Homo sapiens: one gene and its partner. The protein of the gene in region 2 purifies or fractionates together with the protein of the main gene of each other region. This does not show direct contact. Each region holds a gene or a part of one and is shown on either strand. Other genes may lie near its edges.

The links.
Region 1: the proteins of REM1 (region 2) and BUD23 fractionate together in Homo sapiens (co-fractionation; one large-scale study listed by BioGRID). This does not show direct contact.

Annotation. Positions count from the first base shown.
Region 1 is NC_000007.14:73,686,597-73,690,410, forward strand, and holds part of BUD23 (18S rRNA (guanine-N(7))-methyltransferase), read left to right. Parts: intron 1-39; coding exon 40-135; intron 136-221; coding exon 222-304; intron 305-402; coding exon 403-499; intron 500-3,814.
Region 2 is NC_000020.11:31,481,599-31,485,412, reverse strand, and holds the end of REM1 (GTP-binding protein REM 1), read right to left. Parts: intron 3,127-3,814; coding exon 2,925-3,126; intron 1,255-2,924; coding exon 983-1,254; 3' UTR 518-982; downstream 1-517. UniProt on the Homo sapiens protein: Promotes endothelial cell sprouting and actin cytoskeletal reorganization. May be involved in angiogenesis. May function in Ca(2+) signaling.

The DNA of each region.
Region 1 (3,814 bases), on a different chromosome or scaffold from region 2:
ACTCCTTTACCATGTCCACTTGTGTTTCTGCCTTACCAGCTCACGGATGATTGATATCCAGACCAGGATGGCTGGGCGAGCATTGGAGCTTCTTTATCTGCCAGAGAATAAGCCCTGTTACCTGCTGGATATTGGGTGAGATTCTGGGGCCTGGTTCAGATTGTCTAAGGTGGTGAAGTGTCTTTGTAAACTGACCCTGAGTGTCTGGTCATGTCTTCCAGCTGTGGCACTGGGCTGAGTGGAAGTTATCTGTCAGATGAAGGGCACTATTGGGTGGGCCTGGATATCAGCCCTGCCATGCTGGGTAAGTATGTCCTGTCTGGCACCAGGGTGGATTACCCTGATGGGTGTGGAGAAGCCACAGGTATTTCTCTTTCTCTGACTGCCTTTTCTCTAATGTAGATGAGGCTGTGGACCGAGAGATAGAGGGAGACCTGCTGCTGGGGGATATGGGCCAGGGCATCCCATTCAAGCCAGGCACATTTGATGGTTGCATCAGGTGAGGGTCTTTAATTCCTGCTTTTATTTATTTAGAGACAGGGTCTCACTCTATCACTTAGGCTCTAGTGCAGTGTCTGTGATTATGGCTCACACTGCAGCCTCCACCTCCTGGGTTCAGGTGATCTGCCCACCTCAGTCTCCTGAGTAGCTGGGACTACAGGCCCACACCACCGTACCTAGCTAATTTTTTGTTTTTTTGAGATGGAGTCTTGCTCTGTCACCAGGCTGGAGTGCAGTGGTGTGATCTTGGCTCACTGCAGCCTTCGCCTCCCAGGCTCAAGCGATTCTCCTGCCTCAGCCTCCCAAGTAGCTGAGATTACAGGAGCACGCCACCACACCCAACTAATTTTTGTATTTTTAGTGGAGGTGAGGTTTCACTATGTTGGCCGGGATGGTTTCAATCTCTTGACCTTGTGATCCACCCTCCTCGGCCTCCCAAAGTGCTGGGATTACAGGTGTGAGCCACCGTGCACAGCCTAACTTTTTTTGTATTTGTTGTAGAGATGGGTTTTTGCTATGTTGCTCAGGCGATCCACACACCTGGGCCTCCCAAAATGCTGGGATTATAGGTGTGAGCCACCCTGGCCTCTTTCTTCCTGCTTTTAGTCCTGCAAGCCAGTGCCTCCCAAACCTGGCTGTGCAGCAGACTCATGCAGATATTTACAAATACACATCCCATGGGATTTTCAGATTTACAAGGTTAGAGCAAGGCCCAAGAGTGTATTTTTTTGGATTCTAAAACTTTGCAGTCTGGCCAACATGGTGAAACCCAGCCTCTACTAAAAAGCCAGACGTGGTTGTTGTTTTTTTTTTTTTGAGATGGAGGCTCTCTCTGTTGCCCAGGCTGGAGTGCAGTGGCGGGATCTCGGCTCACTGCAAGCTCCGCCTCCCGGGTTCAAGCCATTCACCTGCCTCAGCCTCCCAAGTACTTGGGACTGCAGGCGCCCACCACCACGCCCAGCTAATTTTTTTATATTTTTAGTAGAGACGGGGTTTCACCATGTTAGCCAGGATGGTCTCAATCTCCTGACCTCATGATCCGCCCTCTTCAGCCTCCCAAAGTGCTAGGATTACAGGCGTGAGCCACCGCGCCCAGCCTAAAAAGCTAGACATGGTGGTGGCCACCTGTAGTCCCAGCTAGCTACTCAGGAAGCTGAGGTAGGAGAATTGCTTGAACCCGAGAGGCGGAGGTTGCAGTGAGCCGAGTCCACGCCATTGCACTTCCAGCCTGGGTGACAGAGCAACACTTCATCTCAAAAATAAAACTTGTCTACTATTGCGATTATTTTGCATTGCCGGGTTCGGGCACCACTGGTACAGATTCTGTGTCAGCTTTGTGTGTCTGGTGGGGCAGAGGAGGTGGTCTTTTAGTCTCTAGCGGCCATTTTATGGGCCCCAGCCATCTTGTGGGCCCCAGCAGCCATCTTACTTTATTTGCCAACAGATAACTGGTAGAGAGCGTCTGGACTTGCTCTAATCTCTTAAGTGCTTCACAGTCCTTTCTCTGTAATCAGAGTCGGGTTAAACATCCACATAGCACTTCAATAACAGATCTTAGAATGTTAAAATTGATTAAGTTTTTCTTAGGCTGCTGTGATCAGTTCTGTTTAGTTTTTGGTGTGGTGTGGGAGTGAAAGTGAGAAAATAGGGGAGGAAGTTACAAATCATTACTTGCAGGGGAGACTTCCTTTGGTTACCCTAAGTTGAGTGGTGGGGATGTGAAGTGGGGAGCCAGGTGAGAGGTAAAAATTCAGATTAGAAGATTTTCCTTTTACATCTGGGAACAAGACCCAGGGGGGTTGGGGAATAATTTCAAGGGTAGCAGATGCTTTTTGGTAATGGTCAGATGAGGTGTTTTAAGCTGTGAAAAACCGAAGGCCAGCAGTATGGTCTGTATGTTTCGGAAGGGGATGGTCAGTTTTTGTTTGTCTTCGGGGAGAGGTGAGATGGTATAGCAAACTGTTTTTTTGGAGACGGATTCTTACTGTATTGTCCAGACTGGAGTGCAGTGGCACGATCTCGGCTCACTGCAACCTCTGCCTCCTGGGTTCAAGCGATTCTCCTGCCTTAGCCTCCTGAGTAGCTGGGATTACAGGTGCTCACCACCATGCTTGGCTAATTTTTGTATTTTAGTAGAGATGGGGTTTCACCATGTTGGCCAGGCTGGTCTTGAACTCCTGACTTCATGAACTGCCCGCCTCAACCTTCCAAAGTGTTGGGATTACAGGCGTGAGCCACCGCACCCGGCCCAGACTTTTTTTTTTTTTTTAAACATTTGCTACATGTAAGGCGTACAAGGTGCTGTGGAGTACAGGGAAATGAAACAGTTTCTGCGTGTAAGACTCTCCACGGTTTATTAGGTGCTTTAGGACATGGACCAGGCAACTGAATATAAGGGCATGAGTGGTGTGTGCCCTAGGGAGTCATGGGGCTGCCAGAGCACAGGAAAGCCTTGGGTGGAGGGGCTGCACCTTGAAGGCTGGGAGGAATTTGGATAGTCAAGGAGAGGGTTTCTGAGTGAGGGAACAGTGGGCAGAGGCACAGATGCCGGTGGGAAAGGGGTCTGAGATGAGAGGGATGAACGAGAGATTCCACGGAAGATGGGGTTGAGTGTGGTTGCTTCCTAGAAGGCACTTAAGTGTGTCCTAAGAAGTTTGGGCTTGATGGAGTAGATGATGGGGAGTTGGCAGGTGACGGGATCAGATGTGTGTTTAAGGAAGGTGATTTTCTGGTGAAAGAGGAGAGAGAGTTAGGTGGAAGCATTTGAGCTGGTAGCACTGAGCATTGGTGCGGGGAAGTGAAAGTTGGGAGAGGCTGTGGGACAAGCCAGTGGGGTGGAGGTAGGGCTCTGTGTGTGTACAGCAGGGCGGAGGGGAAGGGCAGGAAGGAAGACATAGTGACTGGTTGAGGTTTTATTTATTTATTTTTTGAGATGGAGTCTTGCTCTGTTGTCCAGGCTGGAGTACAGTGGCACAAGGCTTACTGCAACCTCTGCCTCCCAGGTTCAAGTGATTCTTCTGCCTCAGCCACCTGAGCAGCTGGTATTCAAGGCACATGCCACCAAGCCCAGCTAATTTTTGTATTTTTAGTAGAGACGGGGTTTCACCGTGTTGGTCAGGCTGGTCTCGAACTCCTGACCTCAAGTGATCCACCCATCTCAGCCTCCCAAAATGCTGGGATTACGGGTATGAGCCAATGCACCTGGCTGCTTGAGGTTTTAAATCTGGGGGTTGTAAAGACACTTAACAGGTAGAGTGGAAGGGAGTGATTTAGGAGGAAGGGTGATGGGATGGCTGTGTGTATGTGAGTAGTC
Region 2 (3,814 bases):
GCCTTCGGGAAATGAGTGAGTTGGATTAAACTGGGGTCCATCCCGGGGATTAATGCATTGAGTTTCATAGAGCTCCTGCCCCAACCTCCTTTAAATTGGATGCGAAATTATGTTTTTAAATTCGTTTTGCCAAGATTCTATAGGGTTTTGTATCATGTTTAAAGTGGACAATGGATATGTTGGTCACTAGAGTCTGACAAGCCTGGGCTGGAATCCCGGCAACTTCGCGTATAGCAGCTGTATGATCTTGGGTGAGCCTTCGGTGTCCTCTGCCTCAGTTTACTAACGAGCAAAATGGGGTTAATCGGAAACCCTTCTCCCAGGTGTTGGGAGGAATAATTGTTGTGACAGCTTAGTACACAGCTCCCAACAAACGCCAGCAATTCTATTGCCAGGATGAGTACTGAGGTCCTTCCAGACATGTGAATCTAGAACGTAAAACATGGGTTAATGAGAAAGTAGCTGGTCACGGAACTGTGGTTGTGATCCACTGTTGAGAGAAGGGCCTGAGCACAAAACTGGTCCAAGTACTTTATTGATGCGCCCTGACGCCCAGGCCAGCAGGCCAGACCAGTCTACAGTCAAGTGTAGATGGGAGGGCAGTAGGTGGAGACGCCTGGAAGAGCCGAGATGGAGAGGTCTGGGCATTCAGATGGGACATCCTTCTGGTCTGGTTTATTGTGAGGGTTTCTGAGGGTTGGCCAGAGCCCAGGGACAAGGAAGATTTTTTTACAAAAAGACACCCACCACGTAAAAAACTACTTTGTGCCCAGCTTGGGGCTTCGGCCCCATCGTCTGTCTGTCCATCGCTTTCCCGGGATCCCCCAGGCTTGGATCTGGGGGATGCTCAGGCCATCAGGGCAGCAGGCAAGCAAGACCCATGATGCAGACTCCAGGTAACGGCGCCTTTGCCCCGCAGTGGCGTCCCTGGAGCCCAGAATGCACCTCAGTGACCCGCCAACTCTCAGAAGGGCGGGGGGCTTCAGAGCACGGCCAGATTGTGGCAGGACTTGGAGCGGGCCTTGAGTGCCCGGCGGCGTGCGCTGCGGGCTGTCAGGCGTGCCAGGAAGCGACGAGCGCGCTGGGCTAGGCTGGCCGGCCGTCGGGGTGCTGGGGGTTCCTTGGCCGCACTGTCCCGGCGGCGCAAGCGCAGTTGGCGCACCACGCCCTCGAAGAGCTCGGCCACATTGTGCTGCAGCGTGGCGGATGTCTCGATGAATTTACAGTCGAACACCACAGCGCAGGCGCGGCCCTCTAAGGGGGCGGGGCCCGGCGAGGAGGGGTGGAGCCATAACGGAAGGCGGAGAAAAAGGTAGGAAGAGATGTGTTTAGTCTCGATTGGAAGCAATTTTTCCTGTGCTCATGCCTGGTGCTGCTGTCTGGGGACTCAGATAAATCAGACTGGTCTTTGAGGGAAGACAGAGAGGCTGGGGTCAGGGAGGGGTCAGATTATTGAATGCCAGGTAAAGGGTCTAATTTGCTGTGGATCGGAATTACCTGGAGGAGCTTGTTTAAATGCAGATTCCTGGACCCACCCTCAGAGTTTCTGATTCTGTAGGTTTGGGTTGAGGTCTGGAAATCTGTGCTTTAACAAAATCTCCTGGGGCTTATGTTGCAGTTTTTTTTTTTTTTTTTTTTGGATGTCTGTTCACAAAGCATAGGGTCTTCCACCTCCAGGAGCCACTGAGCCCGAGTTCTAGTCCTCAGGGGCTGGTGACTGTGAAACTAGCTTTTTCCTTTCTGGGTCTCAGTTTACACATTTTTTTAGATTTTACTCTGTGAGTAAGACCATTGAAAAATTGTTATGGGCCCTATCTGATATGTCAAACTTATTAAAATAGTCCCCATCCCATTGTAAATACAAGCCATATATGACGTTTAAAATTTTGGTTTGTAGTTACTGGTTGACAAAATATGTTTTGCAGACAATTAAAGCTTTGAGAAATTTGAATTTCTAATTTTTTTCACTGTATTTTGGAGCCAATAATGGTTCTTTTCAGTTCTCAAATGTAAGCCCTTGAAAAGCCTGTAGGCACTGGGCCTATCATCCTGGTGGATAAAGTGTCTCTGATTAAGGGGCTAGGGGAGCCATAGAGGAAATTATTATTTTTTTGAGACAGAGTCTCATTCTGTCACCCAGGCTGGAGTGCAGTGGCGTGGTCTTGGCTCACTGCAACCTCTGCCTCCTGGGTTTAAGTGATTCTCATGCATCAGCTGCCCAAGTAGCTGGGATTACTGGTGTGCACCACCATGCCTGGCTAATTTTTATATTTTTAGTAGAGATGGGGTTTCACCATGTTGGCCAGGTTGGTCTTGAACTCCTGATCTCAAGTGATCCACTTGCCTCAGTCTTCCAAAGTGCTGGGATTACAGGCGTGAGCCACTGGGCCTGGCCAGAATTTTTTTTTAAAAAAAGAGCTAAAATTATTTTTAATTTTTTTTGTAGAGAGAAGGTCTTGCTGTGTTGCCAAAGCTGGTCTCAAACTCCTGGGCTCAAGCAAGTCCTCCCACCTTGGCCTCCCAAAGTGCTAGGATTATAGTTGTGAGCCACCATGCCCCACCACATACAGGAATTTTTAAGAAGTGCAAATTCAACTCTGGTCTTGGAAAATTCTGGCAGGTGGCAAGGAGGAATAATTGAGAAGCAGGAGGACTGGCGAAGGTGGAGATGCCAGGATAGCACAGAGACTGTAGGCAGAGAGGGAAGGGAATGTGGAATTAATGGAGGTGGCCTGACAGGATCTGGGGACTGGTTTGGGGGTGATGAGTGGGAGGCAAGAATGGTTCCCAGCTTGCAGGCTTAGGCAAGTGGCTGCAGGGTAGGGGCAGCTTGGCAGGGACAGTCACTGAGATGAAGAGCGCTGGAGGAGCAGCCATGACAGTGGGGCCCAGGTGAAGAGGAGGTGGTGGGATGGAGGGCTCACCTTCCACAGAGACTTCTCGGCAGCGGGCCAAGTCTGCCTTGTTGCCCACGAGGATGATGGGCACATGGTCTGCCTGATGTGTGCGCCGCAGCTGGATGCGGAGCTCAGAGGCACTCTCAAAGCTGCCTCGGTCTGCGATGGAGTATACGATGACATAGGCACTGCCCCCCTGCAGGCATGACTCCTGGCTCCAGCTTTTATCCTGCAGGAGAGGGACCCAAGACCCATCCTCAGAGGGTATCTAGGCCCTGGCTGAGGAAGGTGGAGCTGGGATGGTCTAATGGGTGGGATGCAGCTTGAGGTTTATAGTTTGGACAGGTGTGGGGGACAACTTCTGCTATAATTCCCTGTGTCACCTTGGGAAAATTGGTGATTCTTTCTGAGCCTCAGTTTCTCTGCTTAAAAATTTAGGCTAATAACACTACCTCACAGAATTCTCTCACTCACTGATACTTTTGCAGGCTGGGTAGTGCAGGCAAAATTTACTTGGTTCCTGTTCCTGCTAAAGAGGGTTCTCTCTTGACCTGTTTAGCTCTTTTGTCTTGTTTCTGAGGAGGGTTTAGTCTTGCCATATGGTTCTTTATGCCTGGTGAAATCCAGAATGAAGAGAAAAAAGAGAGAAAAGTGAGGACAGGAGGCTGACTTTAGAGGGAAGGCATTTTTCAGGACAGTTTTGAAGATGGAGGTGAAGGAGCAACTGTAAAGTGTAAGTTCACAAGGGGATGAGACAGTCAAGGGGCACTTTAAGAAGTGGAGTCCTTTCAAGTTGTTTGACCAAGAAAAAGAAAGAACTGCAGTGCTTTTGATATTTTGGATGGTGATCTTTTGTTAGGGACAGCCCTCCAAGACTGGACTACCTGGGTAGTAACCTTATAAGTGTTGAGTAAGAC